4 linked regions of the Homo sapiens genome follow. The protein of the gene in region 1 interacts with the protein of each later gene in a pairwise test. Each region holds a gene or a part of one and is shown in the gene's direction. Other genes may lie near its edges.

Region 1 (3,500 bases):
GCCTCCCAGGCTCACACCATTCTCCTGCCTCAGCCTCCGGAGTAGCTGGGATTACAGGTGCCCGCCACCATGCCTGGCTAATTTTTTGTATTTTTAGTAGAGACAGGGTTTCACCGTGTTAGCCAGGATGGTCTTGATCTCCTGACCTCGTGATCCACCCGCCTCGAACTCCCAAAGTGCTGGGATTACAGGAGTGAGCCACCGCGCCTGGCCTAATTTTTTAATTTTTTGTAGAAACTGGGTCCCACTGTTTTGCCCATGTTGGTGTTGAGCTCCTGGGCTCAAGTGATTCTCCTGCCTTGGTCTCCCAAAACACTGGGATAACAGGTGTGAGCCACCACACCTGGCCTCGATTTTTTTGTTACATAAATGATCATATAATATGCTGATAGGTAGATGGATGGATGGATGCTAAAGCTCACTATTTGCCTATGACATTGAGAAATGGGCTTTTGCATACATCTAGGTGGACAATACAAATTAAGGCTTTTTACAAAGTAATTTGGCAATATCAATAGAAATTTAACTGTATAGGGGAATGAGGTGAAGTACAGAGTGTCAGTTGGGGAAGATGAGAAAATTCTGGAGATAGATAGGAGCGATGGTTGCACAACAGCATGTTTGCAGTTAATATCATAGAACTGTACGCTTGGGTATATTTTACCATAATTTCAGTCAGTTAATTGATCAGCTAATAAGCTGGAATCCCTAAAGAAAGAGAATCTGTGATTATAAAACAATATTGGCCAGGTGTGGTGACTCATGCCTGTAGTCCCAGCACTTTGGGAGGCTGAGGCAGGCAGATCACTTGAGGTCAGGAGTTGGAGACCAGCTTGGCTAACATGGTAAAAACCCCATCTCTACTAAAAATACAAAAATTAACCAGCATGGTGGCATGCGCCCGTAATCCCAGCTACTCAGGAGTCTGACTCAGGAGAATTGCTTCAACCCAGGAGGCGGAGGTTGCAGTGAGCCGAGATCACTCCAGTGCGGCCTGGGGAACAGAGCAAGACTCTGTCTCAAAAAACAAAACAAAACAAATAATATTGATCGTAATATTTCCTGTGCATAAAGTCTAATTTGTTATACCTAGTGTGAAACCTAACTTTTTATCTAGGAAGGTACACAGTTGTCAAAGGCATCATCTCTCCTGTTGGTGATGCCTACAAGAAGAAAGGACTCATTCCTGCCTATCACCGGGTCATCATGGCAGAACTTGCTACCAAGAATTCTAAATGGGTGGAAGTTGATACATGGGAAAGTCTTCAGAAGGAGTGGAAAGAGACTCTGAAGGTGCTAAGGTATTTATGGTGTAATCAACTTTGTCAGTTCTGTGTAAATGGCTAAGCGGCTTATGTTTTTACCATGTTTCAATGTTGCTTACATCTGTGAACATACAGATTTGCAAAACTGTCACGTGTGTTGTAAGCCATTCCTGTGGAAGGTTACTACAAGACTGTAGAGCACAGCACCAAAGGATGGGTCTTCCTTAGCCCCTCTGTGTCTTTCATTATGTTTTAAGTTGTTTGCGGCCAGGCGCGGTGGCTCACGCCTGTAATGCCAGCACTTTGGGAGGCTGAGGCGGGTGGATCAGCTGAGGTCAGGAGTTCGAGACCAGCCTGGCCAACATGGTGAAAACCCGTCTCTACTAAAAATACAAAAATTAGCCGGGCATGGTGGCGCATGCCTGTAATCCCAGCTACTTGGGAGGCTGAGGCAGGAGATACACTTGAACCCCGGGGATGGAGGTTACAGTGAGCCAAGATTGTGCCACTGCACTCCAGCCTGGGTGACAGAGCGAGACTCCATCTCAAAAAAAAAAAAAAAAAAAGATGTTTGCTTGCTTGCTACTATGTGATACCACTGTTAGAAAATAGAGGAAGCCTGCCTGGGCTTTCTGTGCCCCAAATGAGAAAGGGAAAATTGCAAGAAGATGTTATTATCATCAGTCTTCCTAAGTATAAAAGAGACAGGCAGATAATTTAAGGAAGAGAAGCATCCAGTGCTGCTTGATCATGGACAGGCCTGATTCGTGTGCTGCTTCCATGACAGCATCTGGGCAGGGAGTCACAGATCTCTGTGCCCATACCTTTGAAGCAGTTCTAGTTAAGGGTTCAAAAACCAGAGTAAGTGACATCTAATTATTTCTCTTTTTTTTTTTTCTTTTTGAGACGGAGTCTCGCTCTGTCACCCAGGCTGGAGTGCAGTGGTGCATTCTCGGCTCACTGCGACCTCTGCCTCCTGGGTTCAAGCAATTCTCCTGCCTCAGCCTCCCAAGTAGCTGGGACTACAGGTGACTGCCACCACGCCCCGCTAATGTTTTTGTATTTTTAGTAGAGATGGGGTTCTACCTTGTTGGCCAGGCTGGTCTTGAACTTCTGACCTCAGGTGATCCACCTGTCTCAGCCTCCCAACACCTAATTATTTCTTTTCTTTTCTTTTTTTTTTTGAGATAGAGGTTCACTCTTGTTGCCCAAGCTGGAGTGCAATGGCATGATCTTGGCTCACTGCAACCTCTGCCTCCCGGGTTCAAGCCGTTCCCCTGCCTCAGCCTCCCAAGTAGCTGGGATTACAGGCGCCTGCCACCACGCCCGGCTAATTTTTGTATTTTTAGTAGAGCTGGGGTTTCACCCTGTTGGCCAGGCTGGTCTTGAACTCCTGACCTCAGGTGATCTGCCCATCTCGGGCCTCCCAAAGTGCGGGGATTACAGAGGTGAGCCACCGCACCTGGCTGACACCTAATTATCTCTTAATGTTATTTTGATTTTTTTAAACTTTATTTTCTTTTTTTTGTTGGAGATGGGGCCTCGCTATGTTGCCTATGCTGACTGATCTCAAACTCCTGGCCTCAAGCAATCCTCCCACCTAGGCCTCCCAAAGTGCTGGGATTACAAATGTGAGCTACCATGCCTGGCCTGTTGTTATCTTGAGTTTAAAATGAAAGGGCTTTCTGAAAAGCCTTTCTGTTTAGTATCTGTTCTTAGAGTTCTGAACTTTCCAGTGACTGACTGTATCATTTAGGGTTCAGACTAGGAAATAGAAACCCACTCTGGATATTTTAAGTGGAAAGAGATTTAAGTACTTAGGCAAAAAGTACTTAAAAGAGCTGAGGCCGGGCGTGGTAGCTCATGACTATAATCCCAGCACTTTGGGAGGCTGAGGCCGGCAGATCACCTGAGTCCAGTAGTTCAAGACAAGCCTGGCCAACATGGTGAAACCCTGTCTCTACTAAAAATACAAAATTAGCTGGGCCCATACCTGTAATCCCAGCTACTAGGGAGGCTGAGGCAGGAGAATTGCCTGAGCCTGGGAGGCAGAGGTTACGGTGAACTGAAATTGTGCCACTGCACTCCAGCCTGGGCAGCAGAATGAGACTGTCTCAAAAAACAACAACAAAAAAAAGTAAAAGGGCTGGAGAAGTGGAAGTCAGGGTCACTCCTCCGATGTTGCCGTCAGAGTTCAACAAACCAATTCCGCTTCTGCTGCTATTGAACTGTCTC
Region 2 (3,500 bases), on another chromosome or scaffold:
AGTGCCAGTTTATGAATTTACACTGAGACATATACTTGAGTTTGGAATTCTGCCTCTGAGCAGATCTGTTTGGGAGGCCTCTAATGCTAGTCACTGAGGATAAGGGGCATCTGTAGATGGATCGTGTGTTCAGGGTGACCCTAGGCTGCACCTGCAGGAGAGTATAAAATGGATAAATGTATTCATTCTGGAAGCGGGGTAACCTTCCTTACCAGTTCCGCCAGGACCTGTCGAATAGTTTGAGTGCACTGCTTTAGCTCCAGTAGCTCTGTACCTGTAATATAGGAATCCCTGGATACCAGGATCCAGAGGTAGCCGTCAGAACATCAGGGAACCCTCTAAACTTTGTGCCTGTGGTCCCAGCTACTGGGAAGGCTGAGCAAGGAGGATCACTTGAACTCAGGAGTTCAAGGCAAGCCTGGGCAACATAGTGAGACCCTGTCTTCTTCAAAAAAGAAAAAAAGACTGGAAACTTTGCATACAGGTGTGCACATTCTTCCAACTTTCGAAGGAATTCAAAGCCCCTGAAAAATGAAGGGAAATGAAAAATGCGGTAAGATGCAGTGAGAGACTTTGTTCATCTCATTTGATTAGTTTCCCTCAAAATGAACTTTCATTTTTGGCATTGCATAGCCTAGAAAAGGCATCACTGCTGTGTCCCGAGGTGTGAGTGTCTTTGATTTTTACTGGATAAATGCCAGACTTTTCTAAAGAGGGAGCAGTTCACATTCATGCCAGTGTTTGAGGTTCTCCACATCCTCATGGCCACTTTTAATTTTAGCCATTCTGATGCTTGTCCAGTGGTGTCTCATTGTGGTTTTAATTTGTGCTTTTTTATTACAAATGGGATCAAACACCTTTTCATGTTTATTTTTCTCTTTTGTGAAGTGCCTGTTTAAAACTTCTTTGTTTTATAGCTTTTATTTATTTATTTATTTATTTATTTATTTATTTATTTATTTTGAGACAGAGTCTTGCACTGTTACCCAGGCTGGAGTGCAGTGGCGTGATCTTGGCTCACTGTAAGCTCTGCCTCCTGGGTTCACGCCATTCTCCTGCCTCAGCCTCCAGAGTAGCTGGGACTACAGGCAGCCGCCACCATGCCCGGCTCATTTTTTGTATTTTTTTTTTTTTTTTTTTTTGAGACAGAGTCTCACTCTGTCACCCAGGCTGGAGTGCAGTGGCACGATCTCAGTTCACTCAGTTCACCTCCGCCTCCCGGGTTCAAGCAATTCTCCTGCCTCAGCCTATTGAGTAGCTGGGACTACAGGCACGCACCACCATGCCAGGCTAATTTTTTATATTTTTAGTAGAGATGGGGTTTCACCATGTTGCCCAGGCTGTTCTTGAACTCCTGACCTCAGGTGATCCACTCGCCTTGGCCTCCCAAAGTGCTGGGATTATAAGCATGAGCCGCTGCACCTGGCTGTTACATAGCTTTTTTTTATGCAACTTTCGTATATAAACTTTTTTCATCATAAATAGGACTTTTCACTTTAGTACCTAGCTCATCCCAGTAGCTTTTCCAGAACTGCTGTCTTCACCACAAAGCTCCCTACGTTTTCCCAATGCAAACCTGAGTGTTTTTAGCATTTTAACTTTCCTCACAGAGAAGACATCGTGGAGCGGATAAATAGATTTGCAGGCATTTCTGTGTCTTCTCCAGTGCTGTCTGGAATAATTTTCTCCACCACTTCTTTCAAGTTATTTGTCTGCATCTCTCTTTTTTTTTTTTTTTGAGATGGAGTCTCGCTCTGTTGCCCAAGCTGGAGTACAGTGGTGCGATCTTGGCTCACTGCCAGCTCCGCCTCCTGGGTTCACACCATTCTCCTGCCTCAGCCTCCAGAGTAGCTGGGACTACAGGTGCCCGCCACCACACCCGGCTAATTTTTTGTATTTTTAGTAGAGACGGGGTTTCACCATGTTAGCCAGGATGGTCTCGATCTCCTGACCTCGTGATCCGCCCGCCTCGGCCTCCCAAAGTGCTGGGATTATAGGTGTGAGCCACCGCGCCCGGCCTTGGGTCATGATTTCCATCATCTTAGACCTGTTGGTGCTGAGGTTTTCTTTAACCATTGGTAGTCTAGACATCAACATGAGCTTCAATCATGGTCTGCCTTTTTTTTTTTTTTTTTTTTTTTTTTTTTTGAGACGGTTTCTCACTGTCACTCAGGCTAGAATGCAGTAGCGTGATCTCAGCTCACTGCAGCCTCTGCCTCCTGGGTAGCTGGGACTATAGGCATGCACCACCACGCCCAGCTAATTTTTGTATTTTTTGTAGAGACAGGATTTTGCCATGTTGTCCAGGCTGGTCTCGAACTCCTGACCTCAAGTGATCCACCCGGGTGGTCTGCCATTTTTAAATCACACAACACATTTTGTCATGGGTAAGACCCACGCATGGAAGCTAGGCAGTTTTTGCCCTGAACATCTTGAACAGTCAGCTTGAGTTTTCTGCAAGTCAGCAAGCCTTCAAACATAACCCTTGAGGCCATCAGATACAGTTTTGGTTCCTTGAGTCCTATAAACTTTTTAAATCGTTGAAAAAATTGAACTAGAACAAAGCAAACCATTTGTTGTTTTCTTTTTCCCCCCTGAGACAGAGTCTCGCTCTGTCGCCCACGCTGGAGTGCAGTGGCACAGTCTTGGCTCACTGCAACCTCCATCTCCAGGGTGCCAGCGATTCCCATGTCTCAGCCTCCTGAGTAGCTGGGATTACAGGTACACACCACCACGGCCAGCTAATTTTTGTATTTTTAGGAGAGACGGTTTTGCCATGTTGACCAGGCTGGTCTTGAACTCCTGGCCTCAAGTGATATACCTGACTCAGCCTCCCAAAGTGCTAGGATTACAGACGTGAGCCACCATGTCCGGCCTCCTTGGTTGCTTTTTAACAGCAAATAATCTTTTTTTTTTTTCCAAGTTGTGTGCTTTCTCCAAATTTGTTTTTTTTCTTCTTCTTCTTCTTTTTTTTTCCCTTGAAACAGGGTCTCACTTTGTTACCCAGGCTGGAGTGCAGTGGTGCCATCACGGCTCACTGCAGCCTGTACCTTCTGGGCTCAATTGAGCTTCCTGCCTCAGCCTCCTAAGTAGCTGGGACTATAGGGGTATGTCACCATCCCTGGCTGATTTTTTATATTTTTTTGGAGAGACAAGGTCTTACCGTATTGCCCAGGGTGGTCTCAAACTCCTGGGCTCAAGTGATCCTCCCACCTTGGTTTCCCAAAGTGCTGGGATTGTAGTTGTGAGCCACTGAGCCTGACCTTGGGTCACTTTTCATGAGCATTTTCAGTATGCCAGTCTCTGCTCTGGCTAGAAGCAATGCAGTGGTAGAAAAGAGACTGGCAACTCTCTTTAAGGAATCGAGATTCTTTAAGGGGAAGGTTATTGAAAATGTTACTTAGGCTGTTTTTCTTAAATTTCCAAAGATTGTCTCTTAGTAAGGTTGATTTTTCTGGAATCTTTTTTTGGTCTGTTTCTATAATGTATGAATAAGTCAC
Region 3 (3,500 bases), on another chromosome or scaffold:
GTAGTTAGAAGGTGAACAGATTGTAAACAGGAGCAAGGAAATCCTGTTTTGAATAGAGTTCAGATACCCTTAGATTCATTGGGTTAACATGTACCTGCTTTTCTTTCTTTAGGAATTTGGAGTAGTTTCAAATACAAGATTGATTGCTGCTGCTACTTCTGTATGTAAGTGCAAAAAGTATATCTGCTTTAAGGATGTAATTCTAAAGAAAGCTCCAGAGTACATAGATTTTTTTTTTTTTAGTTTATGAGACATATGAGATTGGTTGGCTTTATTAAATTTCCTGAGGATAACTTTATATCTAGTGTATCTGGCAAAAAAATCAAGCTAAAAGGTTTTTTTTTAAAAAGATATAAAGATATTACTTTTAATGTTAAAATGGATAGTAATTATCAATCCAAAAACATCAACTCAGTGGCTTTTAATCTTGTAAGAGTAAAGAAAAAATTCTGTTTCCGAATTTTATTGTATTTTATTGTTTTCTAATGACTATTATGTCATTCTTATGGGTAGATATTAATATCTATGTGCAAACCCGTTCCTGTGTTGTTGGGTTGTTATGAGGACCAAATGAGTTAATATAAGCTTTTAGAACAGTGCCTTGCTTAGTATGTTACTTTGCTGAGGCTGCCATAACAAAATGCCACAGAACAGGTGGCTTAAACAACAGAAGCGTATTTTCTCACAGTTTTAGAGCATGGAAATCCAAGATCAAGGTGTCTGGCTATTCTTACATGGACCTTTCTGTGAGCACACACACTCCTGGTTTGCTGTCTTCTTCATGTGAGGACAATAGTCTTACAGAATTAGGCCCCACTCTTATGTCCTCATTTAATCTTTTTTTTTTCTTTCTTTTTTTTTTTTTTTTTTTTGAGACAGAGTCTCGCTCTGTCGCCCAGGCTGGAGTGCTCACTTCAACTTCCGCCTCCTGGGTTCAAGTGATTCTCCTGCCTCAGCCTCCTGAGTACCTGGGACTACAGGCATGTGCCACCATGCCCAGCTCATTTTTGTATTTTTTAGTAGAGACGGGGTTTCACCATGTTGGCCAGACTAGTCTCAAACTCCTGATCTCGTGATCCGCTAGCCTCGGCCTCCCAACGTGCTGGGATTATAGGTGTGAGCCACCATGTCTGGCCTGTCCTCATTTAATCTTATCCCTTTAAAGACCCTCTCTCCAAATACAGTCACATTCTGAGGTACTAGGAGTTAGGGCTTCAACATACGAATTTTGGAGGGGGACATATATTGGTCCACAATACTTGGTAAACTTTAGGGGCTATCATCATCATCATCATCTTCAATGACAACAACATCATTATCACTGGAAAACACTGTGCCAATGCAGTGGCATTGGTACCAAGGTAAAATACAAGGAATTTAAGGACAAAAAAAGAAGACAGAAACATAAAAATATTAATACAGAAGGAAATAAATAGTATAAGAGAGTTACAGAGAATGCTGTGAATGTTTTGGGTGGGAAAAGATTGTTTCATGAATCCAGAAAGGATTAAGTAGAACTTGGTGAAGGAAGTTGAACTGGGGAAATGCAAGAGATAGACAGTCTAAGAACACTGAATAGTTTAGTCAAATAGGGAAAGCTCATGAGTTAGATTAACTGAATGGTGAGTAAGGAAATAGTGGGGAAAACTCCTTACCTAATTTCAGCTAATAGAGGGCCTTCGATGCTAAATGAAGGAATCTGCACTTTGTTCTATTGACAGTAATGAAAGTTAGTTATTTGAGATGGAGTCTCGCTCAGCCGCCCAGGCTGGAGTGCAGTGGCACGATCTTGGCTCACTGCAACCTCTGCCTCCCAGGTTCAAGCGATTCTCCTGCCTCATCCTCCCTGGTAGCTGGGATTACAGGTGTGTGCCACCACGCCGGGCTAATTTTTGTATTTTTAGTAGAGATGGGGTTTCAACATTTTGGCCAGGCTGGTTTTAAACTCCTCACCTCAGGCCTCCCAAAGTGCTGAGATTACAGGCGTGAGCCACTGCACCTGGCCAGTTTTATTTATTTTTACACATGAGGGTAATGCCAGCATTGTGCATTAGGAAGGTAAATCTGACCCACCTCAGCCTCCCAAAGTGCTGAGATTACAGGCGTGAGCCACTGTGCCTGGCCAGTTTTATTTATTTTCACACATGAGGGTAATGCTAGCATTGTGCATTAGGAAGGTAAATCTGACAGAATTATGTAAGATGAATTGGAGGAGAGGGCAGGTAGAATTAGACAAATTTTGAAGTTATTTACATCCCACAACATGGATGAACCTTGAGGACATTATGGTAAGTGAAATAAGCCAGTAACAAAGACAAATATTGTGTGATTACACTTACATGGAATACTTAGTCAAATTAATAAAGATAGAAAGTAGAATGGTAGGGCTGGAGGAAGGGTGGTATAGGGAGTGATTAATGGATACAGAGTTTCAGTTTTGCAAAAATTTTGTATATCTTAACACAATTTAAAAACAAAAACCTTCTGAAATACAGTAAAACTGCAAACTGTATTGAGTGCTGTCACTTACCACAGGGTGCTATGAGAAATAAAACCTAACAAGTTTAAAGTGGAAAAAATAATTTTTAAGTTGCTGAAGTCATCCCAGTGAACACTAATGAAGGCTTAAACGAATATTGGCAGCCAGCAAGAAGAACAAACAAGCCAGATTTGAGCGATAGAGTCAGCAGTTCTTATAAAAAGAAGGGATTTAAGAAGAGTCAGAAATGTGTTTTGAGGTTTTTTTGCCTGGGGGTTGGGGAGCTGAAGCTGGTACTGAAAAAGAGAATAAGTGAGTTCTGAAAAGAATTAAATTTAATCTTTGACATTCTAAGTATAAATATGTTAGTAGAACATCCTCTTAAAAATGTGAGGCCAGCAGTAGAAATTTGGAATTTGATAACATTTAAGAGTTGCACAGGCCAGGTATGGTGGTTCCTGCTTATAATCCGAACACTTTGGGAGGCTGGAGCAGGAGGATTGCTTTAGAACAGGAGTTCAAGACCAGCCTGGACAACATAGCAAGATTCCAGCTCTGCAAAAAATTAAAGAAAAACTAACTGGGCATGGTGGCACACACCTGTAGTCCTAGCTACTCAACTAGGCTGAAGTGGGAGGGTTGCCTAAGCCCAGGAGTTCAAGGCTGCAGTAAACTGTGATTATGCCACTGCACTCCAGCCTGGGCAATGGAGTAAGACTCTGTCCCTAAAAATTAAAAAAAAAAAGAGTTCCACAATGTCTTATGCTGCATAGAAAAAGATGTGAACCAAAGAAAAAAACATCTTTGAGAGAGAACATAGTGTCATTAACAATGTGGGGGTGGAGGTAGAAGCCAGATTGCAAGGAATTAAGAAGCAAGTAGGTGCTGAGAAAGGAATAGTCTAACTATATTAAAAATATATGAAACAACTTCAGTGAAGGGAATTGGGGGAAAGGTGTTGACATAAGTAGCTTTGGAAATGATTAAGAGTGTAAGAGTAAAGGCAAAAGGAACTACACAT
Region 4 (3,500 bases), on another chromosome or scaffold:
AATTATCTCCTAAAAGGTACTGTTGTTTGTAGTAACAAAAAAAGTACAATTAAAAAAAATGAAGAAAAATCTTTCTTCCGCTTAGCCACCTAGTATTTTTCTCCATTGGCAACTAGTATTACTAAATTCCTATTTATTCTTTCTGAGAACTTTTGTATATTAAAATGTTCTCCTCTCCCCCACCTTTTTTTTTGGTAAATGGTGGCATACTATTCATAGTATTTTGTAGTTTTTATTTTTATTTCATTTCATAGATCTCCAGTTTACATGAACCAGCTTTCTTTGAGAGTTGGGAGGGTAGTATTATTTCCTTTGGAATTCATACAGACATAGCCAATGCCATCATTTTGTGATGAAAGTTTCTAGGCCCTTCAGAAAGCCAGTCTTTCCAATTTTTTTAAGAAGAGAGTGTTAAGTGAATATAAAGTGTTTTATGGATTGTATTAGGGTTCTCCAGAGAAACAGAACCAATGAGAGAAAGAAATTTAGTTTAAGAAAGTGGCTCGTGTCTTTGGGAGCTGGCAAGTGTGAAATCTGTAGGGCACACTGGCCCACTATAAATTCAGGTTAAGAGTTGATGTTGTTGAATCCCTTTTCTTCAGAAAACCTAGTCTTTGCTTTTAAGGGTTTCAACTGATTGGATGAGGCCAACTTGGACTACAGGCGTGCGCCACTACCCCCAGCTAATTTTTTTGTAGTTTTAGTAGAGACAGGGTTTCACCATATTGGCCAGGTTGGTCTTGAACTCCTGACCTCGTGATCCACCCGCCTTGGCTTCCCAAAGTGTTGGGATTACAGGCGTGAGCCACCGCACCCAGCCAGATTACAACTTTCCTTTGTGCAACTAAAAATGTATGGATGGTTCTTGACTTAGGAGGGTTCAAGTCAGGATTTTTCAACTTTACAGTGGTGTGAAAGCAATATGCAATCAGTAGGAACTGTATTTTGAATACCCATACAGTCACTCTGTTTCTCATTTTCAGTACAGTATTAAGTAAATTACACGAGATAGTCAACCACTTTATTATAAAATAGGCTTTGTGTTAGATCATTTGTTCAGCTGTAGGCTAATGTATGTGTTCTGAGCATGTTTAAGGTAGGCTAGGCTAGGCAATGAAGTTTGGTAGGTTAGGTGTATTAAGTGTACTTTTTACTTAATATTTTCAACTTATGATGGGATTAGTGGGGCATAACCCCATTCATTGTAAGTTGAGGCACATCTTTACTAACTCCTTCTGCGGAAGAGGATGCAAAATCTTTGGGTGATGTTCACTCCTGTCCTTGATAGCCTGTGACTTAAATATTATAATGTAAAGTTAACAATACTTAAATAGTGTAATGTAAAGTCAGTACAGCTTGCTATAAGAGGATGAGAGAGGGAAGAAAAAGATATTTGCTTAATGTGTGTATATATATATATGAATGTGTTTATGCAAACATATTCATAACAAATCATATAGAAACCTTGATTTAGGAATCAGTCTTGCAATTTTGAAAATAGTTACTTTTCTGATTCTTGAGTAGAATGCGTCATATATTCCCCTATGAGGATTCTTAGGTATTGCTTACCAGTCATCTAGCATTTACAGCTTAGTGCAGCTTTCTTCACAATTCATCTTGTTGACTGCTACCCTTCATGAAATAAGAACTTTGTTTCTTTCTGACAAATGACCCTGAGAAGAAAATTAACTGCTAATACTGGGGATGAGTTATGGTGGGAAATGGAAACATTCTAATAAAGCAAGAAGGTAGTGGGAAACTGGAAAGTTTTAATAAAACAAGAAAGAAATTTTAAATAAGTTTAAGAGTCAGCTGTTGAATTTGGCAGTGGCTGGATTTATACAGGACCACTCTATTTACTCACTCAATAAGTATTGCAGAGCATTTACAGTACACCAGCCCTTAGTGATAGAGTAAGACAGACAGGGTCTTGGGCTTACAAGGAAGTTACAGTATACTGGAGGAACACAGAAAAATATCTGGGAGTGTAATAAGGGCTGGGGCATACGATTGAAATATGGTGCTGTGATAGAGATAAAGTGGCTACTTTAGGCTTGGAGGTCTTGAAAAGCCATCTTTTAAAACTTAACATTTAATTTTGATAAGAAAGAATAGCCAGCTATGTGATGAGCAAGGAGGGGAAGAGCAATAAGCTCCTTGTCTTATTTACTAGTAAGATCACTTTCTACTGTGAGCTTTTTAATGATAGACAAAGAATTTGGCTTCATTATATTATTAATAATCTTACACGTTTCTATATGTAAAGATTGTCCTACCTTTATGTAACTTCTGGGGAAGTATGATTAACTTAATAACTTGGCCATGATATCTGTTATCTTTCTTTCCTTTGAATTAAGGGTGATAATTTATTATATGTTCTTTTTGTTTGTGATCGCAGGGTGGTGTCATCACTTCTGACATGATTGAAATGATATTTTCCAAAAGCCCAGAGCAACAGCTTTCAGCAACACAGAAATTCAGGAAGCTGCTTTCAAAAGGTGAGCTATGAATATGTTCAGTATATTTTTTCATCTCTCTACAAAATTACTTTCCCATAGTCTGTTTTTCATACCACAGGTAATTTGTGTTGGAGTATTTTTATCAATAAAAGAATAAAAATACAGACATATATGTAATTGTGAACCATGCCTAAATTTTAAGTTTCCTATTTATTTGTGGGATCTCACCAGGATCAGAAAACAGAATTATTTTCATTTTTGGGTTATTTTATAAAAGACTTTATAGTGAATAGTAGTCAGTATCATGTTAATTCAAATTGAGAGACTGACTTTTTTTTATAGAGTGACTTTAAAAATACTCCTTGAAAGAGTTATGATTGTTGATTTTAATGTTAGCAATTTACCACTGAAAGTTAGGAATGCATTTACTGGTGGGCAGGGTGATTACCTTTTTTTTTTTTTTTAAAGACGGCTCTGTTGCCAGTCTGGAGTGCAGGCTGGGCGCGATCTTGGCTCACTGCAACCTCCGACTCCCTGGTTCAAGCGATTTTCCTGCCTCAGTCTCCCGAGTAGCTGGGATTACAGTTACACGCCACCACCCCCAGCTAATTTTTGTATTTTTTTTTTTTTTTTGAGATGGAGTCTCACTCTGTCGCCCAGGCTGGAGTACAGTGGCGCTATCTCGGCTCACTGCAAGCGCCGCCTCCCGGGTTCACGCCATTCTCCTGCCTCAGCCTCCCAAGTAGTTGGGACTACAGGCGCTCGCCACCGTGCCCAGCTAATTTTTTGTATTTTTAGTAGAGACGGTGTTTCACTGTGTTAGCCAGGATCTCGATCTCCTGACCTTGTGATCCTCCTGCCTCGGCCTCCCAAAGTGCTGGGATTACAGGCGTGAGCCACTGCGCCCGGCCTTTTTTGTATTTTTAGTAGAGATAGGATTTCACCATGTTGGCCAGGATGATCTCGATATCCTATCATGATCCGTCTGCCTCTGCCTCCCAAAATACTGGGATTACAGGCATGAGCCACCGCACCCGGCTG

The links.
Region 2: the proteins of NMNAT1 (region 1) and RNF4 interact in binary tests that used the Homo sapiens proteins (3 or more experiments, as listed by UniProt).
Region 3: the proteins of NMNAT1 (region 1) and CCNC interact in binary tests that used the Homo sapiens proteins (3 or more experiments, as listed by UniProt).
Region 4: the proteins of NMNAT1 (region 1) and KPNA1 interact in binary tests that used the Homo sapiens proteins (3 or more experiments, as listed by UniProt).

What each region holds. Positions count from the first base shown.
Region 1 is NC_000001.11:9,974,475-9,977,974, forward strand, and holds part of NMNAT1 (nicotinamide/nicotinic acid mononucleotide adenylyltransferase 1), read left to right. Parts: intron 1-1,117; coding exon 1,118-1,301; intron 1,302-3,500.
Region 2 is NC_000004.12:2,503,606-2,507,105, forward strand, and holds part of RNF4 (E3 ubiquitin-protein ligase RNF4), read left to right. Parts: intron 1-3,500. UniProt on the Homo sapiens protein: E3 ubiquitin-protein ligase which binds polysumoylated chains covalently attached to proteins and mediates 'Lys-6'-, 'Lys-11'-, 'Lys-48'- and 'Lys-63'-linked polyubiquitination of those substrates and their subsequent targeting to the proteasome for degradation.
Region 3 is NC_000006.12:99,555,161-99,558,660, reverse strand, and holds part of CCNC (cyclin-C), read left to right. Parts: intron 1-112; coding exon 113-164; intron 165-3,500. UniProt on the Homo sapiens protein: Component of the Mediator complex, a coactivator involved in regulated gene transcription of nearly all RNA polymerase II-dependent genes.
Region 4 is NC_000003.12:122,462,940-122,466,439, reverse strand, and holds part of KPNA1 (importin subunit alpha-5), read left to right. Parts: intron 1-2,398; coding exon 2,399-2,498; intron 2,499-3,500. UniProt on the Homo sapiens protein: Functions in nuclear protein import as an adapter protein for nuclear receptor KPNB1. Binds specifically and directly to substrates containing either a simple or bipartite NLS motif.